3 separate regions of the Homo sapiens genome follow, and all the other regions are reported to be linked to region 1. Evidence: microRNA targets listed by miRTarBase, many of them from high-throughput screens and not tested one by one. Region 1 holds a microRNA gene; each other region holds the end of a gene's coding sequence. Distances are from middle to middle.

The links. Region 1 holds the annotated microRNA hsa-miR-4653-3p (UGGAGUUAAGGGUUGCUUGGAGA, at 3,537-3,559, shown strand). A microRNA usually pairs through its seed, bases 2 to 8, with sites in the 3' UTR of a target mRNA and lowers its output. Matches are read on the target gene's strand: a 7mer-m8 pairs with bases 2 to 8, a 7mer-A1 pairs with bases 2 to 7 and ends in A, and an 8mer does both.
Region 2: the mRNA of KIAA1143 is a reported target of hsa-miR-4653-3p. Seed matches in the 3' UTR shown: 7mer-m8 at 4,985-4,991 and 7mer-A1 at 5,708-5,714.
Region 3: the mRNA of UBN2 is a reported target of hsa-miR-4653-3p. Seed matches in the 3' UTR shown: 7mer-A1 at 7,701-7,707 and 7mer-A1 at 4,408-4,414.

What each region holds. Positions count from the first base shown.
Region 1 is chr7:101,155,988-101,164,228 of GRCh38, forward strand. MIR4653 (microRNA 4653) reads left to right here and starts at 3,486; the gene lies at 3,486-3,568. AP1S1 (adaptor related protein complex 1 subunit sigma 1) reads left to right here. Exons shown (of 5, transcript NM_001283.5): 2 at 607-785; 3 at 1,390-1,498; 4 at 3,072-3,209; 5 at 4,532-5,289. The coding sequence ends at 4,579. VGF (VGF nerve growth factor inducible) reads right to left here. Exons shown (of 2, transcript NM_003378.4): 2 at 6,522-8,241. The coding sequence ends at 7,009. RefSeq lists an enhancer at 374-1,573 and silencers at 6,751-6,840, 7,401-7,450, 7,611-7,750.
Region 2 is chr3:44,744,986-44,756,322 of GRCh38, reverse strand. It overlaps KIAA1143, which reads left to right. Exons shown (of 3, transcript NM_020696.4): 2 at 1,955-2,099; 3 at 2,771-7,579. The coding sequence ends at 2,982. Among named protein-coding and RNA genes, the nearest start is that of KIAA1143, 11 kb to the left of the region's middle.
Region 3 is chr7:139,294,550-139,305,886 of GRCh38, reverse strand. UBN2 (ubinuclein 2) reads right to left here. Exons shown (of 18, transcript NM_173569.4): 18 at 1-8,100. The coding sequence ends at 8,051. Among named protein-coding and RNA genes, the nearest start is that of TRR-CCT4-1, 40 kb to the left of the region's middle. RefSeq lists a silencer at 11,145-11,313.

The DNA.
Region 1 (8,241 bases):
GGGAGGCCTAGGTGGGTGGATCACCTGAGGTCGGGAGTTCGAGACCAGGGCCTGGCCAACATGGTGAAACCACATCTCTACTAAAAATACAAATATTAGCCGGGCGTGATGGCACGTGACTGTAATCCCAGCTACTCAGGAGGCTGAGGCAGGAGAATCGCTGGAACTTGGGAGGCGGAGATTGCACTGAACAGTGATTGCGCCACTGCACTCCAGCCTGGGCGACAGAGAGAGACTCTGTCTCAAAAATAATAATAATAATAGCTAACATGTTATACTGCCTGCCTGTGCTAGGGACTTGCATATATCAAATCATTTAGTCTCACCTAACAACTGTGCAAGGCAGGTACAATGTCCATTTTACACATAAGGAAACTGAGGCCCAGAGACTTACAGTAGTAATTGGGCCAAGGCCTTGCATAACTAGTAGAGCCAGGATTTGAACCCAGCTGACAGACTCAGAAGCTCTGACTTCCCCCTGCTGGTGGAAACACCCAGCCTTGAGAGCAAGGGGCTGGATGTTGGAAGAAAGTAGAGAAGAATTAGCTGGAGATAAGTTTGGGGAATGTGTGGTTACCCTCGGTTCTGCCCTCCCATCCCCCACAGATGCGGTTCATGCTATTATTCAGCCGGCAGGGAAAACTGCGGCTGCAAAAATGGTACCTGGCCACTTCGGACAAGGAACGGAAGAAGATGGTGCGCGAGCTCATGCAGGTTGTCCTGGCTCGAAAGCCCAAGATGTGCAGCTTCCTGGAGTGGAGGGACCTCAAAGTTGTCTATAAGAGGTGACTCCCCACCTACTTTCAGACCTGCCTAGATTCAAGTTGGGCAGTGGGTTAAAATGTCTGAGAAATGGTCGTCCTGTAGGTCAGGGAGACCTGGGAGCTGAGGACATCTGGAGGACAGTAATGAATGTCAGCTTCCTTTTTTTTTTTTTTTTTTCTCCCCAAACTCTTAAAGAAGTTCTTGTTTACCACTTGGTTTTGCTCACGTGCAACACCTGCCTCACTCACGTGTCCCTTTGGGCCCTGTCTTGCCCCACTGCGCATGTCCCTTGCAGTCAAAGGTCCTGCCCTACTTTTCCTAACACACACGCACACACACACCCTTTCCGGTTCCTTCTCCTCGGAGCAGGTAAATTACTTGGCTCAGGTTTTTGCTGAGTCAAACTTAGGAGGTCAGAGGGCAGGAAGGAAAAAGCATGCGTTCTTTGCATGTTTTTAAGACAGCACAAAGAGGCAGGTGAGTTACTCTTTACATGCCCTAGGGCCACCTCACCTGTGGCCAGCCAGGGCACAGACCACCTCCAGGCTGGTGAGAGGTTTGAGACCAGAATGCCTGGGTCCTGAAGCAAGCTTGTAGCGATGTCTCATGCGCTCCTCTCCGCAGATATGCCAGCCTCTACTTCTGCTGCGCCATCGAGGGCCAAGACAATGAGCTCATCACACTGGAGCTGATCCACCGATACGTGGAGCTCTTAGACAAATACTTTGGCAGTGTAAGTCTCCTCTGCCCACCAGTTTCCATTCCCAGCAATCCCCTTTGGTAATCCACCAAACTTTGAGGCCCCTCCAGTCTCTGCCCTGGAAGTTTCAGGGGAGAGGTGAAGTTGGAGCAGTAAGAACAGTAATTAATTTCCCTTTTTAAGCTTTAAGCCTATTAACCATGTCCCATAATCGTCCCTGAGTGGGGAAACTGGGGGCAGGATCAGGCACTTAATCTCCACTTAGAGCTTAGCTCGGACTTTTCACACAGAGACCAAGTTCAGATGTTTTGATTAGTTCAAATTTTTATTTTTTTAGAGACACAGTCTCACCCTATCACCTGGAGGAATGCCGCCTATGGCTGGAGTGCAGTGGCACAATCGTAGCTCACTGCAGCCTTAACCTCTGGGCTCAAGCCATCCTCCTGCCTCAGTCCCCTGAGGAGGTGGGACTGCAGGTGCACACCACTATGCCCAGCTAATTTTTGTATTTTTTTTTTTAAGAGATGAGGTCTTGCTATGTTGCCCAGGCTGGGTCTCTAACTCTGGGGCTCAAGTGATCCTCCCACCTCAGCCTCCCAAAGTCTGGGATTATAGGCGTGAGCCACTGTACCCAGCCCCATATTCAGATTTTTATCACTGGTTGCTGATCTTGGATTTGCATTGGAGTTTTCTGGAGAATTTTTTTGAATGGCAATGTCCAGGTTCCACTCCCAGAGATTCTGAATTAACTTATCTGAGGGACAGCTCAGATCTTAGATGGGGCGTAGTAGTAACTCCATAATTTGTGTTATAAAGTGCTTTTGCGTCCTCTCGTTTGCTCCTTATCCCATCCTAGCAGTAGGTGTTGGTATCCCCATTTTTGAGGCCAGAAAACTGAGACTTAGAGATGTTTCATGACTTGTTTAGCTAGATGGTTAGTGGCAGAGCCCTGCTTGGAACTCAAGTCTTCCACCCCATGGTCCAGAATTCCCTCTTTCCCTGCCCCACAGTGTCCAGGAAGCGGGGCTACCACAGCCTTTGGTGGGAAGAACGTCACAGATTTTGGGGGGAAGGCAAGGGGAACCATAGACAAAGGTAGATAAGGCAACTAATGTTTCATGATCAGGAGGAAAGATGCAAGAGGAAGAGGGAAAAAAACTGATCCAAGGCAAGGCGCGGTGGCTCACGCCTGTGATCCCAGCATTTTGGGAAGCTGAGGCAGGTGGGTCACTTGAGGCCAGAAGTTCGAGACCAGCCTGGCCAACATGGCAAGACCCTATCTCTACAAAATATTTTAAAAATGAGGTGGGCGTGATAGCATGCACCTGTAGTCCCAGCTACTCAGGAAGCTGAGGCAGGAGGATCACTTGAGCCCAGGAGTTTGAGGCTGCAGTGAGCTGTGATCATGCCACTGCACTGCAGCCTGGACGACAGAGCAAGAGACCCTGTCTCTAACAAAATAACGAAACAAAAAAACTGAAAAAGCTGACCAATGACTAAGGCTTGGAGGTTGGGGGCAGAACCCAAGGTGGGAGGCACGGTCTTGAAAAGGAAGTGGCTCCAGTTGCCCCTCCATGCTCAACTTAGCCTCTCCCCGCCCTCCCAGGTGTGCGAGCTGGACATCATCTTCAACTTTGAGAAGGCCTACTTCATCCTGGATGAGTTTTTGATGGGGGGGGATGTCCAGGACACCTCCAAGAAGAGTGTGCTGAAAGCCATCGAGCAGGCTGACCTACTGCAAGAGGTACGGGCCAGGGACAGTGAGGAGGAGGAGGAAGCGCACAGTGGCGGACAGGGTCCTCCCTCCCCTGGACACCCGGCCTGCCCTGCCCACCGTCGCCAAGGAGCCCCCCCTCCCTGTGGTATCTGACCCCCACCACGCCCAGCTCTCCAGCTTACTCTCAAGCCCTGACCCCATGGGGTGGGAGGTAGGGTGGCAGATAGCCCACCTGTGCACCCCTCATTCCAAGCTCTGTCCTTCTCCCAAGCCCCCAGATGTCTCGTGGCCACCCAGTCTCCTTTGTCCAATTCTCTGAGCAAGGCTTAACACCAAAGGGTTAAGGGTTTGCTCTGGAGTTAAGGGTTGCTTGGAGAATTGGAGAAGGGGCACCTGGTAGGTCATTCTTTTCTTCCCTGATTTCTTCCCCCACCTCTCTTTTTTTTTTCTTTTTTTTTTTTTTAACACACACATACTCCAAAGCCTCTGCGTCTCAGGAGGAAAAGGCTATGGGGATTTGGGGGCTGGCAGAGGGCACCTGGATGTTGGTTCTCCCTGCTCCCCAGCGCCCCCGCCCTCACCCCATTACTGCCTGCCCCCTCTCTGCTGTGCCATCACCGAGCCCTGGTGCAGGGAGATGAGTCACCGGAATCTGCAGTGATGAGCGAGCCCGGCCTGAGCTGGCTCTGAGGAGGGGGAGAGATGGGGGGCGAGGGAGGGCTCATCTTTGCAGTGGGAGAGAGGGCAGAACTGAACTTGCCACCTCACTGGTCGAGCTTCACCTTCCCACACACGCACACACACACACCCTGGCGCGCACACACACACACACACACACATGCCCTGGCACACACACCCATCGTGTCACCAGTGTTGCGCTCAGACCCTAATGACGCATCTCCCTGCAGCCTGGTTCACCTTCCCTCAGGGACCTGGCACTCACCTCCCTCTGCCTTTTCCCCACTCTGAAAAACAGGACCCAGTCAGCTGTACCCCCCAGGGCCCCAGAAAGATCCCCCACCTCCTTGTCCCGGCTTCACTCCCTTTACCCCCAGGTGTCAAGGCGGGGCCCCTGCTTACCAAGGTCCTGGCTTTGGGTTCTCTGGGTGGTGACGGACTCAACCTGGACCCCCCCTGCCACTGTTGGCTGGCTCTGGGGCTGGCCCTGGGAGGCTGGTGGGTGCCCCATGAAGGGCTCACTGGTCCGGCCTTGGGCTCACATTGGCTTCTCTCCCCCTCCCCCGTGTCTGTGCCTCCCCCGTCTGACTCTTCCTCGTGACTGCTGTCTTGCCCACCCTGTCGGCCTCTCCTGGTGTCTCTGCGTCACCCTCTGTCTGTCTCTGCCTTAGGAGGATGAGTCGCCACGGAGTGTGCTGGAGGAGATGGGTTTGGCATAGCCCCTGCTGGGCCGGGGTGTGGCGATGGGGTCCTGGCAGCGTGGCGGGAACGGCTGCTTCTCCTCTGCCCAGGGCCCTGTTCTTGGTGGGACTCGGCTGCCCCTCCTCTGCTGCCTCACCTTTCGGAGTGAGCTGTGGGCTCAGGCCCTTCAAACATTCCCTCCCTCCACCCCCTACCTCCACTTTCCCCTTTTCCCACTGAAGGTTTTAGAAGCTAGGAGGCAGGAAAATGTGACCCAGATGGGGGTGCTATTTGGCTTTTATTCCCTGCCTTTGCAGAACTGATGTCACCCCAGATGTCCTTCCCTCCCTAATAACTGTAAATATATAAATATGTCAGGTTAAAGGGAAAAGGTGTTCAGGGCACTTCTTGTCCTCTCTGTCCCATAACCTACCTCCACCCTCCCCCTAGCCAGCCAGGCAGCTTCTCTGCCTGGGAGGGGAGCCTGGACCCCCCTCTTTCTCCTTGGCTGCAGTGGGGCCTTTATCCAGTGCCAGGGAGGAACAACATAGTTAATTTTTTTCTAACCTTGCCACTTTGAGGGAAGGAAGGGTTGGGGGAAGGGCAAGCTTTATGGGACCCTGGTCCTGGCCCTGGCCTTTCACTCCAGTTCTGGGTGAGGCAGGAGCTGGGAGGGGTGGGGAGGGGGAGGGGGAAGTGTCTGCCTTTATGTCCTTTCTTCTGAAATAAAAGTAAAAGCATTTCTGGACTTTGCTGGCCTTGGGCTCTGTGAAGGAAGGCAGGGCTGCTGGCATCATCGGGAGGCCAAGGGGATCCTGCCAGCCTTGGGAAGAAACGGAGAGCACGCAGTTAAATGAGAATTCCAGATACACAACAAATCATTTTAGGGATAAATGTGTTGCATGCAGTGTTTGGGACACATTTAACTCTAAAACTGCATCTGTTGTGTATCTGGAATTTCAGATTTCATTTCCTGTATTTTATCTGGCCACCCTACCTTAAACGGATTTTTATGCCCAATGCGTCTCCAAACGGGCTGCCCCCAACTCCCTGAGCTGCCTTTATGGAAGGAGGAGCAACTCTTCAGGATGCGGGTCTGTTGTGGGTGATTTCGTTTGCCCAGTTTAGTTTTATTTGAATCAGTTCACAAGTACCTGCGATTAGAAAAGGCTTAAGATGGGAGGCCAAGGTGGGGAGGTCGCTTGAGCCCAGGAGTTCCAGACCAGCTGAGCAAGCTGGCAAAACCTCATCCCTACAAAAAATGCAAACATTAGCTGGGCATAATGGTGCACACTTGTAGTCCCAGCTACTCAGGAGGTTGGGGTAGGAGGATCACTTGAGCCCAGGAAGTCGAGGTTGCAGTGAGCTGTGATTGCACCACTGCACTCCAGCCTGGGCAACATAGTGAGACCCTGTCTCAAAAAAAAAAAAAAAAAAAAAGTTAAGAAGTGGCTTTAGCCAGCATGTCTCTGTGGCTGCCACTCCCTCCTCCCCGCATTTCTTGCAAAGTACCTAGGACCAGGAATGTAGGGATCAGTGGAGGGAGGTGGGTGGGTGAACACAGGAAACTCCGGCATTACCCGCGCGGCCCCAGGATCTTGGGAAAAAGGAGCCCACTGGCACCCAGAGTTGTGGCACCTTCTGCGGGTCGCCTTTTTCTTTTGAACCAGAGGTCGCTGGACTGATCGCAGACAATTGGCTCTTTTATTGCATTCCGCTGGGCCTCTCTCTGTCAAGCCCTGGGGAAAGATGACTTTACCACCAGCCCCCAAGCTGGAAGTGGAATTTCGGGTTTCTTAATGGGTGCGAGCCACATTCTTCTCCTCTAAAAACAGTTTGAGGACTTTCCCCACTTACCCCTTGCCTTAGTTTGGGGGCAGGAAGCAGGAGGAGACGGGGACTGTGGCTGGCGCTTCCCTCACCGCCCCTTGGGAAGGACCACACAGGCCCAAGGGGACGGGTGAATAACCGAGAACAAAGTCCTAATAAAATAGTCACTTTTATTTCTTAGCAAAACTATTTCCTCCGTGAGGGGTATTTACAACAGAGAAAGGAAAGAAGGGGTCAATTCACAGCGACTTGGAGAGGCTGGAGGGGCTCGTGGGAGGCCCGAAGGGCTGGAGACAGACACACTTCACACAATTAACTGGAACTGCTTTTTCCGGTTTCCGACGGGGACGTCCCCAGAGGGACTTGATGGGGCCGGGGCCCCGCGTGGCAAGGGAACTCGCACAAACCACCCGCCCTCCTGGGCTGGCCCCCGGTCACCCGCGGGTGAGCTCTGGGAGTTCGGGCTCAGGACCCGGGAGGGGGGTCTGGCAGGTCCCGACGCAGCCCGGGGACAGGGGCAGGGCCAAGGGGCAGGGCCGGGGCGCATGCAAACACCGAGGGGGAGCGGGCAACACGGAGGGGGGCGCCGGCGCGCGCGCGCGGCGGGGGCGCGCGGGGGCGGGACCGGGAAGGGCAGTCACGGGCGCCGGAGCAGCACGTGCTCGATGTAATTCTCCAGCTCCTCCTGCTCCTGCAGCCGGCGCTCCTCCGCCTCCGCCTCCTCCTGCGCGCGCCGCGCCTGGGCCTCCCGGCCGGGATAGTGGCGCGAAGGCGGCAAGGCGTGGTGGTAGTGGCGGCGGCGCAAGGCCGAGGGCGGCTGCAGTGTCCGCGGCCGGATGTAGTTGGGGAAAGGGTGGTACGGCCCTGGCGGGTACACCTCGTCCTCCTCCCGATCCCAGGGCGGGAGCACCTCGTTCCAGTCCGGCAGCTCGTCTCGTGCGGGAGCGGGGGCGGGGGGCGGGGGCTGCGGGGAGCGGACGTGGGTGGGGGCGGGGGCGGCACGGGGGGGCGGCACGGGCTCGGGAGGGGCGTTCTTCTTCCGCTTCCGCTTCTCCTCCACCTCCTCGATGATGCTGACCACGTCGTCCGCTGGCAGGTGGAGTTTGGTGGACAGCTCAATGAGGCTGTCGATCGTCTGCGGATCCATCTCCTCGTCGTCCTCCTCCTCCCCGCCCTCCTCTGTCCCCTCGGCCTCCTTCCGCCGGTGGCCCGGCGTCTCCTCCTGGGAGCGCTTGTCCTCGGCGCCGGCTTCCCCGTCCTCCTCCTCCGCGAACAGGAGCGCGTTCTGCCGCGCCCTCTCCGCCTCCTCCGCCTCTGCCTCCGCCTCGGCCGCCTCCTCATCCTCTTCCCCCACCCTCTCCTCCCCGCCGCGTCTCTCCTGCTCCGCCTCCTCCTCCTCCCTTGCACTCTCTCGCTCCTCCGCCGCCTCCTGCAGCCCCCGACCCCCGAGGCCGCGCTGCCGGGCCCCGCCCTGCAGCAAATACTGGAGCAGCAGGTCCGAGGCGAGGTCGGCCAGCCGCTCTTCCTGCGCCGCGGCCTGCCGCGTGGCCTCCGCCTGCCGCCGCCCGGCCTCCACCTGCGCCAGCCCTTGCTGGAGAAGGCGCTCGCCCGCCTCGGAGCCGCCCAGGAGTGCGCTCTCCGGCCGGCGCGCCTTGGGGAACGGGGCGGCCACGCCTTGGTACGCCTTGGACAGGGGTGCCAATGCCTCGCCTAGGTGTGTTTTGGGGGAGGACACTCCTTCCCCGAACTTGTGGGTTTCGGGAAGGGGCCCGCTGTCGGGCATACGCGCCTGGAATTGAGAGGGGGCCGGGGGCGGCAGGGGCGCGCGCTCCGGGACACGCGCCTGGAACTCTCCCCAGGAAGCGCGCCA
Region 2 (11,337 bases), not on the chromosome of region 1:
TCCCAGAGTGCTGGGATTACAGGCATGAGCCACTGCGCCTGGCCCTATTCACTTTCTTGAGAGTTAATTCAGAAATGTCTCTGAACAGTCATCAGTGGCTACTGCCACTGTCCTTAGACTATTTCTCTTGTTTTCCAGGCAGTCACATTTAAAAAGAAAAAAAGAGAAGAGAGTCAGAATTAATTATTCTCAATTTAACAAACAAAAGGAATGATTTTATTTCACTTTCCCATATTTTTGGCTAAAAATACTTACTACCTATTTGTGGTCATTTATTGGAGACTTTCAGAGAAAAATTGGCAGAAACTGATGAATAATCAGTGAACTAACATAGATACCATTAAAGAGAATGTACTTGTGCAGTGATAGAGCAGACTTGAGAACTTGAGTTATAGTTAAAATGGCACAAGCAACTTGCCAGGGCTTCATGTAGTTCATCATTTTCCATTCTGTTGGTCATTCATGAGTAGATCAACAAATATTTCTGGAAGTCCCTGCTGTTTTCCAGGCTTTGTGCCTCTCCAGAAGGCACTTGCCCAGTGGAAACCAGCAGAAAAACATTGGTACCACAGTGCAATACATGCTACCTATGAGCTATGCACAGTGTAAGAAACAAGAGAAGGTGAGATTTAGGTAAGCACTTCTAGAGGCTCTAAATCTGGAAGGCAGCTTGAGTAGGAGTTGCTCAGGGGCTGTGGGGCTTAATAAGCCGTAGGAATTTGTTCAGAGACAGGGGAAGCAAAGGAGCTAATATATTTATAAATCTCCAAGTACTCAAACCTTGCCATGCCAGAGTCTAGATGCCATGAGAGAGTGGTACAGGATAAAGCTGTGGTTATGGGCTGAGGCTAATTCTTGCAGGGCTTTGTCGCCTTGTTTGGGAGACCAGGAAGTCTCTATGAGAAGTGGAGTAATGAGTGATTGTGTTTGAATAACATATGAAAACATATTTTGGTATGCATACCTTTCAACCCAACAGTTCCACCTCTAGTGAACTGTTAACATTAAAAGTTCTTGCATACAAGTTCCCAAAAGTGAGCAAAAATGGGTGCATGAGGTTTTTTCATAGTAGAAAAAAATCTGGAAACGAGCAAAATTTGTATTTACAAGATGCTGGTCAAATAAATCTTGAGGTGACCATATATGTAATTAAATGCAAGGCAGTGATTTTTTAAAAATCAGATAATTCTATATCTTAAAGTACTGTACAAAGATATTTTTTGAGTTAAGTTGTGGGAGTGGGGCTCTTACGGTGTCTCACATTTCAAAAATCTGAATCAACTGGCAAAATATTACCATCTGTTACACATATACAGGGAGTACATGGTTTCTGTTATGTTATTCTCTGTACTTTATGTTTGAGAAATTTCATAAATAGGGAAAAAGCAAGTCACAGGAATAAGTACAGTGTTGTTGGTATACAAAAAGTTTTATGTACCTACATAGTTGTATAGACGTGGAAAATAGCTGATAGAATATCCACCAAACTGAAGCTATTAGGAGGGGGAAAAGATGAGCAGAGGTGAGAGAGAGAGTACGTTTTACTTGCTGCTTTCTGTACTTTGATGGTGTTTATTTCTTGTCTAACTCAGAGAAGAGACAGGCAAAAAGTGCTGATGAGGAGCAAACAACTGACATGGCACAGTGCTGCCCTGAGTAGGCTAGGAGTGACAGCAGTACCCAAAGCAGAGGGTCCCTCACACTAGTAACTACAAGCTGGGTCCTGCTGAGATGGAAATGAATCCCACCGGACAGGCACTCCAGGCTGAATGGCAGTTAAACCTGTTCCCTTGTGTGGCAAGCTAAGTCTCTTTGGAGTTACCTTAAAATTCATTGCCCTTATTTACTCAATAAAGATACCCTTCTCATAAATAATTACAGTTTCTCTTAGAGGCAGTGGTTCTGTTTGTCTCAAGATCAGTGATCTACACATTGTATTTGTGTTTTTCCCTAGAGAATTCAGCCTCAGCCCCCAGATGAAGATGGGGATCACAGTGACAAAGAAGATGAACAGCCTCAAGTGGTGGTTTTAAAAAAGGGAGACCTGTCAGTTGAAGAAGTCATGAAAATTAAAGCAGAAATAAAGGCTGCCAAAGCAGGTAGGTCTAAAAGTAATCTGGTTTTTCTAACAATTTAAGGAGCCCAGGGTATGAAATTGTTTATTTTATTTAGTAGTGTGGTGTGTTTCAAGGTGGCAGTTCCGGGTTCAAGCCTTAGCTTTGACACTTACCAGATGTGTAACCTTGAGCAAGTTATTACACCTCTCAGCCTCGATTTCCTCATCAGTAAAATGGAAATAATTGTACCTATTGGGTTGTTACCAGGATTAAGTGTGAATTTAAGTAAAAGCATCCTATTTTTTTTTTTTAAATAGATGGTTAGACTTATAAACCAGTCAAAAAAGGTGTATTTCATTACTGCCTGAAGTTTGGTATGATATGTAGTATATTTTTCATTATTTCTGAACATTTACTACATTGCTTTAGGGGAAAATGCTGTAGTTCCAAACAGTCACTTTTCAAACTACTTAAAAATACAACCTGATTGTAATTGGGAACTGACAATATTATAGAATACTTTAGCATGTGAGTTTTTATTAAGTAACTGCATGCCTTGAGGGCAATATAGCTAGAAACAATGGAGAAGACCAGACTGAATCAGATTCAGGGATATCCTTAAATACAATATGAGATTTTCTTATTATTTGCTTCTAAGGTAAAGGCAAAATAATGAGGAGAAGAAAGTTCTTAAAAATTCTGTTTTTGCTCAGATGAAGAACCAACTCCAGCCGATGGAAGAATCATATATCGAAAACCAGTCAAGCATCCCTCAGATGAAAAATATTCAGGTTTAACAGCAAGCTCAAAAAAGAAGAAGCCAAATGAAGATGAAGTAAATCAGGACTCGGTCAAAAAGAACTCACAAAAACAAATTAAAAATAGTAGCCTCCTTTCTTTTGACAACGAAGATGAAAATGAGTAAGTGTAAATATTTTGAATTTAGTCTACTTTGAAAGTATATGGAGTGTTCATTAAAATCACATTTTTTCCTATTATAAAGATACTACAAGTTCTTTATAGAAAGTTTAGGAAATAGAGAAAAAAATTTAATAAACTACATCTATTCATCAATACCCCTCTGACTTAAAATGCCAACTCTATAGAAATTAGCTAGTATTAACATTTTGTTATTTCCCTTGTGTGGTTGTATATATATGTAAATTATATTTTTAAGCAAAATACATTTTTTGTGTGTAAACAAAATTTTATAAATACAACTGTATTGCAAATGTTCTTTGTCCTGCTTCTCACTTGACATTGCATTACGAGTATTCTTCCAGGTCAGTAAATTTCAAAAACCTGACATTAATAGCTACAGATAATTTCATAAACATCTCATTGTATCTTTTTCATTAGCAATAGCTCCACTTTGGGTGGGGGAGATGATAATGTGCCTTGTTAAAAATACCTCCCCAACTCCTGCTAAGGGTGGCCATGAGACTCAGCTCTGGCAAGTTAAGAAATACAGGTGGAATTCTGCTTGATAAAGCTGCTGGGTTTTTTGTTACAAAAGGACAGACTTGGCAAACATGAGCCTTTGCTCTTATCTTTTCATCCTACTTGGAGTGCAGAGATAAAACCTGAGTACCAGAGCCACTTTTAGGCATAAGGAAGGCAGCCATGTGCTTTGGGTCATGTTAGTAAAAAGACTCAGAGCTTGGCTCCTTGCTGACATGCCTGGAGGAGCTGCTACACCAGCTTGGATTGCTGACCTCTGACTTCTTGGTAGTGAGAAGAATAAACACTGTGCTTAATTAGGCCTTGGTCAGGTTTCTTTTATATGCAGCCAAATGCAGTCCTAAGTAATACAATAAATAACTGGTCAAACTGTTACTGGTGGAGGGTGTCCAGGTTCTTGGCATTTTGGACAAATAATTGAACAAAACGCACAAAGCAATGAATATCCTCTAGAGGTTTGCCATTGGTTACTTGGCGTACACCCTGTGTAAATGAAGTAGTGGCCCGTGACCTGTCTGATTGGTGCAGAAAGTGACCAATCAGAGGCTGAAGTGAAGTTACAAAGTTATACTCCTGTGTAAATGAGGACTTGGCCTATGACCAGTCTGATTGGTTGCAGGAGGGGACCAATCAGAGGCACTTTCATTTTTCATCTGCAATGCAGAAAAGGCAAGGGGATTGCAAAGGGAGTAGCCTCTGATCCTTTTGTTACTTAGGTATGGAGAGGTGGGGTTTTCCTTTTGATTCAGTTCTAGGAAGTCAATGTGAATCAGCCTTAGGTTCCCTGTCTCCAGACCCTATTCTCCTGCCTCATTTTCCCCCTGAGAGACGTGATCCTCGTAAATCTTTATGGGAGGCTGAGAGACTGAGGGTCTTTCTTCTGTAACTGCTTCATGCTAACTTGGGACACAGTCCCTACCTATTGGAGATCACGTAACTCTCACCCTGCTTTGTCTAGGGGAGACAGGGTAGCTTCTTGATGGCCGGTGGTGTCTTCTCCTGAAACTGGCTAGAAATCTTGTCACATGATCATCTAACTTGGTGGTCTCTAGGCAAAAGGAAATGGATTTGGTTAAAAGATTTAACAGATATGGTCCAAAAACCAAGGCAAATATAATCATTAATAATGGGCTGGCCAAGGGAGGGAGCCATGAAACCCAACTTAGTGCCCTTTAGGTGCCCCAGCTGTTGTCATATTTTAGAGGCCCAGTCAGCTAGTTTTCAGGTGGTGTCCCTTACTAATCCTGATTGGTTGACATCAAAACAGCATTCTTCTTCTAGGAAAATACATAAGCCACCTGTTTCAGCAGTTAGGAGATCTAGTCCCCTTCGATTTTGCAAAGCGACCACTGCCAAGGAGCCTATCCGAATTTGTAAGGTGACAATACTTTGAGCAATGTTATCCAGGCTTTCCATAAAATCCTTGGACAAGCGTTGGTAATAGGATAGGGAAGTTGCAATCCCGCTAACTCCCATTCCTACCTCTGCTGTTATTCCTAGCCGTTGTGTCTGGTGGTTGCAGTTAAAGGTATAATGAGGGATTGGTTGTTGGGAGCTATATTAATTTAGGGACATACAATATTTCTGTCTCCAGTCTACCACTTCCACCAAAGACAAATCACAGCAGAACCGACCTAACTTCAAAATAAACTGCAGTCCCATATACTGGGCCTGATTACCCACACAAAGTGCAACAAGAATCATTGTCCATATAGACTCTCCTAGATTGGCTTTGCTAGAACATTTCACAAGGCCATTTCAGTCAAAGTCCTGAGAAAGTAACCGGTTTCAATTGTGCCCTATTACAAAAGAAAACGTGGTTATTAACTTTATACAGACAAATGCCATGAATTAAGAATATTCATAAATAGTTTACAAATTCTGGAGAAATTAGAATACTCAATACACTTAAAGTGTATTTCAAGGCTATAAATAGCTCAAAATAAAAAGATTATTCAGACTCTGAAAAAACAAAAAGAAGTAGCAATATTTCAAACAACAAAAGCCATACAAATTATTTCAGTCTTCCATTAGTTCATTTCAGTCCATGTAATCAACTCCTGCTCTACTTCATATTCATCTTTATGAACACATCAGCCTTTCAATTAGTGCCTTGGAAGTTTTCTGTCTAATCCAATGGCACACTCTCCAAAGTTACCAGAAACCTGCATTCAAGAGTTCTTTTCATGAACTCCAAAGAAGTAAGCCTTGGACTGTAGCTGATTATAAGTCACTTTTTTTTTTTGAGAAGGATCAGAGCAAAACATCAATTATGGATGACAAAAGTCTTAAGACAGCCATAAAGACACAGTTGACAAATGTGGCTATTTCTGTGGCTTACAACAATTTAACATAATCATTACAACATATATTAAGACATATCAGAATTTTAGAACTCTCATACAATCCTGGAACACATATTAACAACAAATCTCTATCAGTATAACCCAAAGGAAGCTAAACACCACCTCACACTTGACAATGTTTCCTGTATAATTCAAACATTACAAATAAGCCTAATATAAGCCTAATATGTCACTCTTGAACTTCAGGAAGCCTAATATCCAAAAAGTTAGTTTAAGGTCAAAAGTTTTTGAATTAACTTTTTTCCATTAGTATGGTCATATCTTTCTTACTAATTTGTAAGTTATGTAATTTATCAATTTTTTTTTGTTGTTCTGTTTCCCAACCTCTATGTCAGATAAAGAATCACCCAGGCCAGACACAATGGCTCATGCTTGTAATCCCAACACTTTGGGAAGCCAAGGTGGGAGAATTGCTTGAAGCCAGGAATCTGAGCCCAGCCTGGGCGACAAAGCAATACCCCTATCTCTACAAAAAATAAAAAATAGCCAGGTGTAGCGACACACACCTGTAGTCCCAGCTGCTCAGGAGGCTAAGCAGGAGGATGGCTTGGGCCCAGGAGTTCAACGCTGCAGTGAGCTATGATTGCACCACTGCACTCCAGCCTGGGCAACAGAGTAAGAACTGTCTCAAAAAAAATAAAAAATAGAAATAAATTTTAAAAAAAGAATTACCCATATTCTCTTTGTTTTTGTTTATTCACATTAACCTTTATTCTATCTGGAATTTATTAGAGTATACTTTTTTCTCAAATAATCAATTGTCCTAGAACCATGTGTTTCTCATTTATTTGAAAGGCCATCTAGTGAGAGATTTCTCCAAATGTTGGGGTAGGGAAGGGAGGGGAAGCACTTTAAAGTCTGAGCCTTTAGAGGTGATTCCTCAAGACCCTGCTTAATCCTAACAATTTTCCTCATTAGTAAAAGTCAGCCCAAACTGGGGGCTTGTTAAGATCCTTACCAGCCACATCCATCTGAAATTATGAATTTCAAAGTATCTTACAAATTTGGTGCCACATTATCTTTTTTAAGTTTGTTTTGTTTTGTTTTTTTGAGACAGAGTCTCGCTCTGTCACCCAGGCTGGAGTGCAGTGGCGCGATCTCAGCTCACTGCAAGCTCCGCCTCCTGGGTTCACACCATTCTCTTGCCTCAGCCTCCCAAGTATCTGGGACTACAGTCGCCCGCCACCACGCCCGGCTAATTTTTTTGTATTTTTAATAGAGACGGGGTTTCACTTTGTTAGCCAGGATGGTCTCAATCTCCTGACCTCATGATCCACCTGCCTCGGCCTCCCAAAGTGCTGGGATTACAGGCAGGAGCCACCGCGCCTGGGCCTTTTTTTAAGTTTTAAGTACCTATAAAGAACACTGAAAGGTGATGTGTGTGGATGAGCTAGGAAGACCTGAAATAGGCTCTCTCTAAATTAATCAAATTAATCCTGAAGCCATTCTGCAATACTGTCTTTAATGTATACTCACTTGTTATAGAAGCCAGGGTTTTTTCCCCTAATTTGTATCATTGCTATATGTGTTATTGTACCAAACTACACTGTTTTAATTGCTGTAAATTTTAATATGTCTTAGTATCTGGGTGTGGGAATCTTGAAAGCATGGAGTTTGTGTTATTCACCACTGTATTCTCAAATATCAGAAGAGTATCTGGCCTACTAAGTGCACAATAAACATAGTTAAAATGAATGAGAGTGTTGTCTGTAATTTTCTTTTTATAGATGAGTAGGTCTCATGTGTAGACCCTGTACCATCAGCATCAGAACCCCTTAGAAACCTAAAAATTAAAATCTTGGTCCTTGCCTGCTGAATCAGAAACTGTATGTAAGGCCCAGTAATCACTGTAACATGCCAGCCAGGTGGTTCTGATATTCACTCACGTTTGAGAACCACTGATAAAGACTATAGTAGTCCTCCCTTATCCATGGGGAATACATTCCAAGACCTCCAGTGGATGCCTGAAACCACAGGTAATACTAAACTTTATATGTAGTATGTTTTTTCCTATATGTACATACCTATGGTAAAGTTTATAAATTAGGCACAGTAGAGATTAACAATAATAATACAGTAGAACAATTATAACAATATACTATAATAAAAGTTATGTGAATGGTTTCGCTTGCTAACAACAATAAAATAGAACAATTATAACAATATACTATAATAAAAGTTATGTGAATGTGGTTTTGCTCACTCTCTCAAAATATCTTGTTGTACTGTAACTTGGGTATAAACCACAGAAGAAAAACCATGGAAGACTACTCTATTAGAACTATAATAAAAAATGAAATGGGCCAGGTGCAGTGGCTCACACCTATAATCCCAGCACTTTGGGAGGATGAGGTGGGGCAATAGCTTGGGGCCAGGAGTTTGAGACCAGCCTAGCCAACATGTTGAAACTCCATCTCTACTGAAAATACAAAAATCAGCTGGGCACAGTGGCTCTTCCCCGTAATTCCAGCTATTCAAGAGGCTGAGGCAAGAGAATCACTTGAACCCAGGAGGCAGGGGTTGCAGTGAGCCAAGATCACACCACTGCACTCCAGCCTGGATGACAGGGTAAGACTGTCTCAAAAAAAAAAAAAAAGATGAAAAATGTAAACAAGGAATATGAAAAACGTTTAAAAGTTCTTAAATCTTGAAACACATCATATTGGTGAAGGCTTTACTGCAGGTGATATTTCTAGCAATGTAAACATAAAAGCTATCAGCCAGGAAGCACATCTTGTTATGAAAGACAAAGACCAAGACATGGTGGCACCTGAGATGTGCTTACCATCCTTAGGGAAACTGCTTCCTAAGAACAGTGGGTTCTGTTAACTGCAAGATCTATTTTGCTAAGAGTGGTGAGTTTGGAGTCAAGAGAAGAGAGGCTCAAAGAAGAAAGACGAGGCCTGTTTCCTCATGCTGCTTCTAAGCAATGTTGAACATGTATTTGAAGCTCCAGAGTAAAAATAGTAAATTTTGGTGATGTCCACCTGCTAATTCTGCAGGCTTGCAGGAAAAAAAAAAAAAAAAAATGTGATGTTTGCCAGCCTCCACCAAAATTTCAAAGGATGGCTGCCCAGGCAGAGACTTGTTGCAGGGGTGGAGCCGCCCCCAAAGAGAGTGCCCCCAGTAGAGCAACACCGAGCAGAGATGTGGAGCTGGAGCTACTGCAGAAAGTCCCAACCAGGGCAATGCATCGTGGAGCTGTGGAAGCAAGGCCACTACTGAGAGTCCTCACTAGGGCCATGCATAGTGGAGCCATGGGAACAGAACCATCACCAAGAGCTACAGAATCACAGGCAGTATGCAGCACCTGCTGGGGAAAGCTGCAGGCACCAGACTCCATCCTGTAGGAGTAGCCATGTGGGCTGCACCCAGCAATGCCATAGGGGTGGGCTTGCCTGAGGCTTTGGCGGCCCAATCCCCGCCCCAGTGTGTCCAGGAGGAAGCACATGGAGGCAAAAGGGATTATTCTCCAGCTTTAAGATTTGGCCAGGTGCAGTGTCTCATGCCTGTAATCCCAGCACTTTAGGAGGCCGAGGTAGGAGGATCACTTGAGGTCAGGAGTTAGAGACCAGCCTGCCCAACATGGTGAAACCCTATCTCTACTAAAAATACAAAAATTAGCTGGGTATTGCTGGTGCATGCCTGTAGTCCCAGCTACTCCGGAGGCTGAGGCAGCAGCGGCAGAATCACTTGAACCCTAGAAGCGGATGTTGCAGTGAGTTGAGATCACACCACTGCATTCCAGCCTGGGCAATACAGTGAGACTCCGCCTCAAAAAAAAAATAATAATGTCTACCCTCCTGGGTTTCAGACTTCCTTAGGGCCTGTTACTCCTTTCTTTTTGCCTATTTCTCACTTTTAGAATGGGAATCTGTCTTTTTCCTGTACCACCAATGTATCTTGAAAGTAAATAACTTGTTTTGATTTTATAGGCTCATAGATGAGACTCTGGACTTTGGACTTTTGAGTTGATGCTGGTTGTTAAGACTTTTGGAGTTACAGGGTTGTACGTGAGAAAGACGTGAGTTTGGGGAGGCCAAGGATGAAATGCTATGGTTTGAATATTTGTACCCTCCAAAATCATGTTGAAATTTAATCCCCAATGTAGCCTTTAAGAGGTTATTAGGTCATGAGGGCTCTGCCCTCATGAATTGATTAATTCATTCATGCATTAATGGGTAAATAGGTTCATGGATTAGTGGGCTCTCATGGGAGTGGGGCTAGTGGCTTCATAAGAAGAGGAAGAGAGACCTGAACTAGCATAATCAGTCCCCTCACCATATGATACACTGCATCAGGACTCCAGAGAGTCTCCACCAGCAAGAAGACCCTCACCAGATGTGGCCCCTCTACCTTGGACTTCTTAGCATCCAAAACTGTTAAGAAGTAAATCCCTCAGACCAGGTGTGGTGGCTCACACCTGCAATACTAACATTTTGTGGGGCTGAGACAGGAGAATTGCTTGAGCCAGGAGTTTTGAGACCAGCCTGGGCAACATGACGAGACCCTATCTCTACAAAAATGAAAGCATTAGCTAGGCACAGTGATGTGTGCCTGTGGTCCCAGCTGCTTGGGAGGCTGAAGTGGAGGATCACTTGAGTCCAGGAGGTCAAGGCTGTAGTGAGCCATGTTTGCACCACTGAACTCCAGCCTGGGCAACAGAGCAAAACCCTGTCTCAAAAATAAATAAATTCCTCTTTTAAAATAAATTACCCAGTTTCAGGTATTCTAAGTAACAAAAAATGGATTAAGACAAGCTTGAACTGCTCATTATAAACTTTCTTTTCAACCTTTAACCTAATAGTTGGACATCCAGTTCTTTTTTATAAAACTCCTTATGTGATTCTTATGTATAGCTAGGTGTGAGAAACAGAGCCACTAATACCCAAACCACACCTACATTAATTAAATTGGAAACTCTGGTGGTGGAACCAGTAGTTCTGAAAGCTCCCAGTGATTTCAAATTGCAGCCAAGAGTGTGAACCACTGCCCTACAACCTAGGAGACTCTCACTTTTAAGAGGAAAGATGCTCTTTGCTAAGCATGAGGCAGGCAAGCCAAAGGCTAGGCAGGGAGGCAACTTTAGGAAATCCCATGAGAACTGGGCCATGTTAGTGTACAGTATTTCCCTTTTTTTGTGGCCCTCAAACTGGTAAAACCTTATCAAATGTGACAGTCAAGATTTAGCTAGTCTTTGGGAATTAAAGGTAGTAGCAAGGTCCTAGGTTGGGGTTGGAATTGGATAGGAGAGATATGAGCTCCCAGTGTTTATAACACTGATGGTGGCGGCATTGCTTAGAGAGTTTCTAAAGATCATTCTCCAAAAAGAAACTAGGGTTCCTTGGAGAAATAGTTGATTCTGAGGGCTAAAGTGGAGATAGTAAAAACTGATCCTGGAACCTCTTGTGCCAAAAAATTAGGAGGTGTTTAAAAAATGATGAACGGCTGGG
Region 3 (11,337 bases), 38 Mb from region 1:
TATGAGAAATAGCCTCTAATGAAGATCTCCATCTCTTTAGAATAACCTTGAAAAGTAACAAGAGGAAGTCATGAAATGCCGCATTATACAGTAGCAAAATCTATTTTTTAATACAAAGGAGAAGAGGAAAAAAAAGAACACCTCTAGTCCCAGTGATGACCACTGATGACTGTAAGTCCTAGACACAGAGACCCTAATAATACTACTGCGATTCTGAAAAGCATTCCTGACTTGTTTAACAGTTTGGAAAAGTGTCCGAAGTTTAAGTACTAACGCACTATGAAATGGAGATACACAGGAAAGACTGAAAAGTAGAACTATCACAATATAAGGAAATTAAAGATCACAAGTAGCTACTTTCAAGCAAGTGGTACTTTGAGAGTCTATGAGAAAAATAAAATTTAATATCACATTATTCAAAGGCAGTCTGATTAAAATCCTGAGAGTCCCTGCCTGAATCCTCTGCTGGGATGTAAAGTCTTCTAAAGCAGGCCTGCACAGGGCTTTACTTCTCAGTTCTATGGGGACACAGGATAGGTTGCCAGAGTGAGTGAGAAGAGGATGTAAAAGACAATTTAACCTTTCCTCCCCAGACTCCTAATATACAATTCATATTCTAGTGTAGCAATATGATTAAGAGCTCTGAATAAAGAATGAAGACTAAAGGAAACCAAGAAAGAAGAATTCAACATTAATATTCAAAGCTATTTTTAATTAGAGTTTGATCACCCATTCAGCTCTATAAACCTGAACATTGTGTCATATAATCTAAAACTCTCAGAATTGAACACTGGGATGATTTTATCATTAACAACCCAAAGACATTCCATGATACTAACTACAGCTTTGCACCAGTGAAAGCATCTGTAGATAGTTTTTGAATACAGAGTTCACATTTTACGATAGATGAACACACAAAGTATCTCTATTTTATGCTTCTGTTAATTTTCCCTAGAAGAACAAACACACATTCAACAAAAACCCTTATGCCTTATTTCTTTGGGTCTTAACATTTGTTATCTGAGAATGGAAAAGACAGGGACATGTGAAAAAAAAAAGGAGTATGTTTATCTGCATAGTTGATATTTAGAGGCTACTAAGGCCTTATCTGGAAAAAGCAACAAAAATCCAAAAAGTGACTTACAGACACACACACACACACACACACACACACACACACCCTATCATTAGAGATTCAGTGGACCTTAGCCAATTCTGGAAATTAACCAGATGCTTTGTCTGCTTGGACCTGGTGCTTTCTACTAACTCACTTGAACCTGGTAACACTGGTTCCTCATCCCCAACATTTTGCTTTCCTGACCCTGAATATGTGCTACAATTTAAATTTACACACACACTCCAACAATCGTTGCTCAGCATTTAGCCCCAACTAAAACTGCAGCATCCATTTTTCTTTTCCTGTTGCTATTATTTTAAACGATAACGGGAAAATTCTATGTAGTAGTACTACTTAATATACAGGGATGGAAGGTGGGATAAAATGATCTTCGTCTCCTCCTGGGAGCTGGGGAAAACATGTTTCCTTCTACCCTGACCTTCCCCACCCCGACCCAGTTAGAAAGTGAATCCTGCCTTCCGTCTCCCATTTTCTTACAACCTGAGCAGCTGATGGCTCCACCTCTTTCATGGGTTGAAGAAGCATGAATTACAAAGGTGCAATGGCTACAAGAGTATCCAGCTGACTGTGTGTAGTGCTCACCCCTTCAGTGCAGAGCTGGATACACCTACAGTTAATGGAATTAGTACACAATCTCTGATTTGCAAGAATGAGACATCATACTCATTCTTAGAAAGTTAAAAAGCTTAGCTATCCGTCCTCAAACAAGCAATAAAAGGAAATTAGACTGAGAAGATGGAAAAGTGAGACAGTTAAAACTTCCAGGATCATTTATCAACTCCAATAACCAAGCATCATAACTTTATCTAACTTTAGCTCCACAACCTTGACGAAAAATCACAGTAACACCGTAAAAGGCTAAAAAAAACTACTTAAACTTAGTGTTATTTCTCTCCCTTGTTAACCTGAAACTAAACATTTTATCCCACCTCAAAGATAATGTTTAAATAACAAATATGTATCTAAATTAAAATTCCAGTGATTTTTTTAAATTTAAAAACCATAGGGTGCTTTTTATACTCATTATAAGGAAAACATTTTTTAGCCTCTGCAGGAAGATGATAATACTATTTTTAATTATATAGGACATTTTACAAAAACTCAAAATATTTTTGAAATAGTAAAGTCTCTGATATCCCTGGGAGGTAGGTGAATATGATTATACCCAATTGTCTAATGGGTAATCTGAGGCACGAAGGTTAAACAATATTCCCCCTAGACATAGTCATTCAAGAATAACACTCGTGAATTCCAACTGCCTGGTAAGTTCTGCTATCAGGTAACACTACCAGGAGCTTCTGCTTTCTCCTTTTAAGCCACTAGTCTCTTCTTCTTCCCAATTAGAATGTATTGAAAGGGGGGCACTTACTAGGTATATTTGTACTGGGTCTGAGGGATGGTTCAACTTGGTCTCCCTTAACATGTCACATCTATTTGTTTTCAACAAAAAATCGATGAATCTTAGATACTGAAAATTATGTTATTTTGCTCAAGGGAGAAATCTAAATAACCATAAAATCAGATTAAGCCAAATGTAATTATCTAGCAAATAAAAAGCAAATGGAAAATCTCTCAAGAATGCTATAGATTATATGTTTTCCTCAGCATCTGAAGTCTTTCTACTTCTGAGTTTATTAACCTTTTAACAGATAGATATGCAGCTATATGATTTCTTCAAAAATCATTTTCCAGAAGAAAATATGATACATTTTTCATGTTGACAGTTGCTAACCTGCTTCTAAACTTAGACACCAAACTGCGGTTCTAACGCTAGCCTTGTCACATGTTTAGTCTAGCGCACCTTACCAATGTGACTTGCAAGGTACTCTTGTTATTCCAATGCTGTCTCCTATATTACTTATGCCAAGTTTAAAGAGCACAGAAAAGTGGGTTATATCCAAGAATAGTCAATGATTCACTAAGTTTATTTTACTTGTAGTAACTGACGTGTGTGTGTGTGTGTGTGTGTGTGTTGTTATTGTTAACTTCTACAAGCAGATATTCAAAGGGCGAAGGTGGCCTCTTGTGAAAAGATACTTTTCTATACTTTTATTTTCTTTTTTTGAGACGGAGTCTTGCTCTGTCGCCCAGGCTGGAGTGCAGTGGCGCGATCTCAGCTCACTGCAACTTCCGCCTCCCGGGTTTATGTCATTCTCCTGCCTCAGCCTCCCAAGTAGCTGGGACTACAGGCGCCTGCCACCACGCCTGGCTAATTTTTTGTATTTTTAGTAGAGACGGGGTTTCACCATATTAGCCAGGATGGTCTCGATCTCCTGACCTCGTGATCCACCTGCCTCAGCCTCCCAAAGAGCTGGGATTACAGGCGTGAGCCACCGCACCCGGCCGAAAAGATACTTTTCTAATCCACCCACTTTAATCAACTAAAAGCAATGGAATAAACAAGGCAGAAGTTTTGCAAACATGGAAAGGGGAGTGTTTGGAAAGGATGCAATGGTACAGCAGCTCCTAGTTTTATATATATGTAATGTATGTATCTTACACATATATCCATATACATAGAAAGCAAAGGAAGAGGGTTACACAGCATGACATGATGTTGACAAGTGTGAGATTCTTCCTCCTGAATCCCCTGACTTATCAGTCTGTACTTTAAGATAATGTGACAACAGTTTCAAAAGAGAGGAAAAAAGAAAGAAAAAAGGCACTTAACAAAGACAAAGGCCTGAATTGAGCATGTTTTAGAGGAGTAATATAAGCATTTTACCAGAGCTAAGAAATGATTTACAAAGAGTTAAACTTTTCCCCTTAAAATTTTATAAAATAAAATTGCATAACATGTTGTGATCATTTATCTACTACTGCACTTTTCTTCTGCTTCATTATTACAAACACAAAAGCCCCCTCAAAAGCAAAAAACAACAATCATACATGCACAATAGAAAGTAAAAGTGCCTCTTTTGAGAACATTAGGTCAGCAGAATTACAGTGCTGAAGCACAGGAAAGTTCTCAAGTTTGGCCTGATTATAGATTTTTCTCATTCTTCTATTTCCAACTTTAAAAAAAAACAAAAACAGAAACAAAACAAAAAACAAACAAAAAAAAAGCAAACAAATTCCAAACCTAAATAATAAAAACAACAAAGGGACCAGTGTGCTTTTACGGTACACTCCTAAAATAAAGTATCCTAATTCTATACATGAGTCAAACTAGAGGACAAAACATCCTAGAAATAAAGAACTGTAAATTAAAGTCAACCAATACAGGCAAAGTTCATTTTACAAATGTAGCAGCAAATATGATAGATCACTGGAGTTCTAAGAGATGATCCCAAAGGACGCAGAGTTCTCATAACCAATGGCAGTTTGAACAACAGCAGAATTTTCGTTTCAGAAAATGTCTTGAACCAAGTATAGGTGGAAAGGGGTGTGGGAGAGGGCAACCAGAGGACAAAGACTAGATTAGAGGTGCCTGCCCTTTCCAACCCTGGGTAGTAAACAATTTAGATCTGCTTTGGGAAAAAAATATCCTGGGTTAAAAATCATGTCCAATAAGTTGTTTTCAACCAGGTGTCAAACCCACAGTATTCCAACACATATGTGCCCGGTTCTTCCCCTTACCTTCCTGATTCAATAAACCCTATTCAATGTCCATGATATGAAAAATGTAATTTGGGCTAACAACATCCATCAGAGGGGGGGTGGGCACAAAAGAATGCACTATCACCATCTTCTAATTTCCGCAAAGTATCAGAATTTTATGACTACAGATTAGCCTCATTTCCTTTCCCAAAACCTTTTTCTTCAGGCTGTTTTAAAATCACGATTTCATTTACCCTCTGACCTCAAAAGCATACAAGAATTATAATTGAATTATAATGGAAATTATTGCTTGCATTTATTCTGGATGCTCTGAATGAGCTTGACACTTTGCTCCCAGTCTCCAACTGAGGCTCAGCACAGCTATCTCCGAGGACAACCCTGCTGACTGTTATTGCTTGTGAATACTGAGGATTAACTTGTATGTACAGTAACAGCTTATATATCAGTGAAGGCAATTTAAAATATAAAACAGTTGAAAACAAACAGCTTAATCTTCCTGAATCAAGAATCCCAAGGAGTGGGATATAATCATGTGTGCTGATTATTTTTGCATTTGGATGTTGCTAATGCTCTTCAGAAATACACGTTGCTCTATAGATATCCTTTCCAATGACTCACCATTTTAAAAAATAACATAATTTGATTTTTAAGTGCAAAAATACAGTATGAGTCACAAGTCTCTGTGCTAAAAAATAACCAATTTATATGTTTGTTTTTAGTAATAAAAACGGTAAAGACAGGTGACCATAAAGTATGGGCACCTTTTTCAATGTTATGATCTAGGAAAGAAATAGATTACTATTTACATGTAGAAACTCTCTGATCATACTTTATCTATACAGAAATACAACGATGTTTGACTGATTCATACAACATAAAAGGGGGGTCCTGACTGAAATGAATGTAAGTCGTCAGTGCAGGTGGGGGTTTAAGGTAGGGATCTGACAGTAGTCCTCAAGGAATCAAGACTAAAGAGAACACAGAAGAATCTCCACATTGTATTCTTGGAGCCAAGGGCCTTCAGATATTTTTACTGGTTAGTATAAAATGTTACAGGGAAAAGAACTGATTATCTTGTTCTTTTCTAATGATGACAGTCACCAGGGATCTTCATATGGCATGATTCAGAATTGATGGTTTTAAGAAATTCAAATGATTTTTTGACTCAAACTAGTCATTTATATGAATGTATGTGTGTATGTATATATACATACAGACAAACATATATACAAGTATTCAGGAAGAGAAATTAATACGCACTTCGACTTCTCTTGTGGTATGAGAAGTAAAACAAAGGCTACCTTCCCAAAGGAAAATCCCATCACTTCCCCTAGTATGAAGCAAAGACCTTTTTATTCATATTTCGTAAAAGCAAGAGGTCCACTACATTTGAAAAAATTAAAAAAATTGGGCAAGCTTCCTTAATTGAAACCAAGCAAATCTTCATCAAACATACTGAATTCAAGTCAAACCTCTCTGCAACATCCTCCCAGTATCCTTCCAAAATATCTACTGGGGTTCATACTACATCCATATTTGTTTTATTGATAAACTAAATTCTTAGAGTCAAGAAATTATATCAGTGATTCCTTTGAAATAATCCTTTCCCTTTACTGTAACAAGTTCTTGGAACTAAAGTTTTCAGTTATTTATTAACTTTTTCGCTATGAAGCAAGCCAATGTGACTTTGAAGTCAAAATATAGGCATACAGATCTGAACCGATCTGTGGTTATTTATTCACAGTCCTGTAGGGTATCTGGGACTTTTGTGTATAAAAGAAAAAAGGGCCTGGTTAATACTCTTAATTGAGTAAATCTAATGGTATAGGGTAATGTATAATAAACACATATGCAATAAATCTTGTCACTACCAGTCTATTTTTTTTAGGTTAGTGTCATTATAAATGGATGAAGCTTATACCATTTAGAGTTTACACCATTCTCTGATATAGTATGAAAATATTCAGAAGCTTAAAAAACTAGAATAATGCGGCAAAAAAACCCATCAAATCAAATGTATCCAAGGAGAACCATAAATTTTTCCCTTAACATCCTTTGTTGAATATGCTATTTGCATAAGGAAGCTATAATAACTAAGGAGTCTTATTTTCTGCAGATTTACTCACATACCAATACACTGAGTAAATAGTGAAGCTTTAGGATCTCAAATGCTCCAAACAATTTCACTACACTGGATACAGGGAGTAAAAATATGTCGTGATTGTGATCCTAATGTGATTCCTCCCTTTAAAATACCATCTTAAAAATTCAAAAACTATATTCATGCCATTTGAATGACCAATGAAGAAACATAGTGTACACTTCTACCTGTTTATACCAATAGCTAATAATCACCTGAAGGACCACTAGCTAAAAGAACAGAAGGAGAAGTTGTGAAGTTAGATGAACTGGGGAAACTTAGAGTTTATGTTGCTGCAAGGGCTAAAAGCAGCAAAGCAATAACCCTGTAAAGATCCCCATTTCTCAGGAGAAAAATGTGAACACAGTCACATTTTAACATCAAGAATGGAAATAAGAATTAACCAGTCAATACTAGATGCACAAATCACCTGAAGAAAAGAGTTAAGTACCTGCTTCTGAACGGAAGATGAAATTGACCCTTTTACAAAAAGGGGACATCTAGGTTTCATCTCTTAAGAGCAACAGGCTCAACTTCCTGATTTTTAAAAATCTAGATGATTTAATAATATATATCACTGTGCTAAAATAACTTTCCTGAAGGATCTTTAGTCCACTGATTGAGGGAAGTTGCTACACACTGGAGGAGATTCAAGTTTGTTCAGGATTTTCGAGGGTGTGCTATGCAGCTACTGTCTATCGGAGATAGAATCATTATTATTTCTTTTTGTGGCAAATCTGCTACACAGTCCATTCAAATAGACATGATCATTATTCCTGACAAACTGGCCTAATTCCAGTTTTTAATGCCTTTTATTACCAATTATGTCTGTAAGTGTTCAGATCCAACCCCCAGGATGGATGGAGTTTACCCAAATTCTCTTCACTTCCTTCTTCCTCCCCCGGGAAAAATCAAATTTGTATTTCTGTGGGTTTGACAACTGAGTCTCTTTCAAGTCTGTTAATACGGTAACTCTGTCATTCTTTAGAAGAGACCAAAGGTCACTAACTTTGCACAAAAGCATTTCTTCCTCCTGCACCTGGCTTTGCTCAAGTAATGTTTTCTTTTCTTTTTCCTCCTCACCACAGTGCTTGGGACGAGAGAATGTAAACATCGACAGAAACAGCAGCCCTATGACCACATAAGTACTTTCCCATCAGGTAGATTCCATCAGTCAACTAAACATTTCGTCTCCTTTGCTTGCTGGGCAGTCACTGAGATTTCCGTGGTAATTTAGTGTCCCCTTTACTTTGGCCTCCATCTGAGAAAAAGAGACGTTAAATTGGTATGGGTCCATATGTTACAAAAACCAGCTAACAAAAACAAAGCAAAAACAACAATTAACTTTTATCTTTTGTGGATGACATCTCTGAAAAGATATCACTTTTAATATCTTGCATGCCATATAGCATTATAGAGGTTGATAAAACATCATGGAGATAAAAACTCAACAACAATGATCCTCTTCTCTCAAATGACTGTGGTTTTCAGTGTTTTTTAAATATGATTTCAACAAGTATTTATCATTTACGTCCCAGCCAATTGTGTCAAATGCTGTGAGAGGGTTATAAAGGAACCAGAAGACACAATTCCTACCTCCGAGGGACCCACTACATCTTTCAACTCCTTTGGAAGACAGGTCAATTTCATTTTTTTTTTTTTGTAAGTGAAATAAAATTTCTTGCCAGGACACAGCATTTCATAATTCCTGATTATTTGTGTAAACAAACGTAGCAAACTTTTCATCTGTAGTGAAAAACATCCAGCTGAGTGTGTGCTCATTCTAACCTAGCTTTAAGTGACAGGAAAGTCTGCTACTGGGACAAGGCTCTTTCCTTTTTTTTTTTTTTTTTTGAGACGGAGTCTCGCTCTGTCGCCCAGGCTGGAGTGCAATGGCGCGATCTCAGCTCACTGCAACCTCTGCCTCCCAGGTTCAAGCAATTCTCCTGTCTCAGCCTCCCGAGTAGCTGGGATTACAGGCGCACACCACCATGCCCGGCTAATTTTTGTATTTTTAGTAGAGACAGGGTTTCACCATGTTGGTCAGGGTGGTCTCAAACTCCTGACCTCATGATCCACCCTGCCTCAACCTCCCAAAGTGCTGGGATTACAGGCATGAGCCACCACGCCTGGCTCTTTCTTTTTTTAAGAGAGAGTCTTGCTATGTTTTCCAGGCTGGAGTACACTGGCTATGCACAGGTGCGATCATAGCACACTATAGCCTCAAATTCCTGGGCTCAAGAGACCCTCCTGCCTTAGCCTTCTAAGTAGTGGGACTACAGGTGTGTGCCACCACACCAGCTCAAAATAATTTCTATTTTTACATACTGCTGTTTAAATGCTTGCAGAAAAAATGTTGATTACTTCATTTAAGCCTCAACTAAATTACCTACAAAAACTGGACAGGAGGAGAGGAAAGGGGGATACCAGGGCAAGGGTAAGGCCCAATGACTTGGAAAGCCAACAGAATATGGAGAAAGTCTCCAACAGGTCATGGCCTTAGCAAGAAAAATGAGGCCTCAAAGACAACCCATGCCTGACAGCAAAGGACAGGAGAAGGAAACCTTTTACTCTGAGGGAAGAGGCATGAATAGCAGAAATACACAGGTGAAAAGGAACAAATTTGACCAGGGTTTGGCAAACTACAGCCCATAGGCCAAATCTGATTCCCTGCCTGCTTTTGCACATGAAGTTTTATTTACAGTCATACTCATGTGTTTAAATACTCCTTATGGCTGTTTTTCACTACAATGGTCAGTTGAGTAGTGGTGACAGAGACCATATGACCTGCAAAGCCTAACATATTTACTATTTGGCCCTTTATAGAAAAATTTTACTGACCTTTGTTTTAGACTAAATAAAATTAATCAACATTAACTGAGCTCTTACTATGCACCAGGTGCCAAGCTAGAAGCTTTAAATCAATTATTTTTTATTAGATTCTCATATGAAGTCATTAAAAAACATTTGTTGTCTCCAGTTTACAAGCAAGAGAAAGTGATGGTCAAACAAGCCTACTCAAACTGGCAGTTCTGGAATTCAAAAATCCAAGTCTGATCCTCAAGTTCAGTGACTTACACTTTAAAATGTTTCTTAAAGGAAAAATTTTAAACTTTTTTTTTTGGGGGGGACAGACTCTCACTCTGTCACCCAGACTGGAGTGCGGTGGCACAATCAGAGCTCACTGCAGCCTCAACCTCCCAGGTGTAGGTGATCCTCCCACCTCAGCCTCCTGGGTAGCTGGGACTACAGGTGCACAGCACCATGTCCAGAAAATTTTCTGTATTTTTTGTAGAGATAGTGTTTCACCATGTTGACCAGGTTGGTCTCGAACTCCTGGACTCAAGCCATCCGCCTGCCTTGGCCTCCCAAAATGCTGGGATTACAGGCATGAGCTACCATGCCTGGTTGAAAAATTTTAAACTTTTTAACTTTAGTTATTTGGAAAATACTGACAGTCATATTTCCTTTCTCCCCTCGGAATAGCAGTGCTGCACAGATAAATTTGATAGTTCGTGTAAGAGCGAACACTGGGGTCTTTTTGAGCCACAAGAATCCTGCTTGTTTAATTCCTTGCAGGTGGCCACATTCATGCCAATCTGCCCATGAGTACACTACCCTCAGCTGGATTCATTATACCAAGCAGCTGTCTACACCCAGGGGGGGACATGCTTTAGTCACAGGGAAATTCTCTTTAGATATTTAAACTAGTCAGAGTTCAGGAAGATCGGGATTGCTGACATTTGTGCCACGACTCTGTGTTACCCATTTTACACAACTGTGGTTTTATACTCATTCTCAAGGTTAAGACTGAGACAGCTCACCACTTAGGTCTTTCAGAGGATTAATGGCAATCTGTTGCCTCAAGATTGCCCCTCAGTTCCCATCTCTGCACTGTGGTTAATGGTAAACTGGTTCAAAGGTCATTTTTAATGCAGTGGCCAAAAAAAAAAAAAAAAGTGAGGCCTAGTCAACTTCCAAAGTTAAGAGGGCAGCTAAGCAGTTATTTCTGCTCAAAAGATCCTGAAAATGGGCTTCAGAATAATATCAGTGTCTATGGAGGTAGACTGCTGGGGAAAACGAGAAGCTGGAGCCCAGTGTGTTATGCACATTGCCTAATCTGACTGCCTAATGTCAGATTTCAGAGCGATCTGGCTGCCTACAAGGACATAATGCATACAGCTTGGATCATATTAATTTTTTTTTTGAGACGGAGTCTTACTCTGTTGCACAGGCTGGAGTGCAGTGGCGTGATCTCGGCTCACCGCAACCTCCACCTCCTGGGTTCAAGCAAATCTTCTGCCCCAGCCTCCCAAGTAGCTGGGACTACAGGCATGCGCCATCAGGCCTGGCTAACTTTTGTATTTTTAATAGAGACGGGGTTTCACCATATTGGCCAGGCTGGTCTCAAACTCCCAACCTCAGGTGACCTGCCCACCCTGGCCTCCCAAAGTGCTGGGATTACAGGAGTGAGCCACTGTGCCTGGCAGGATCATAT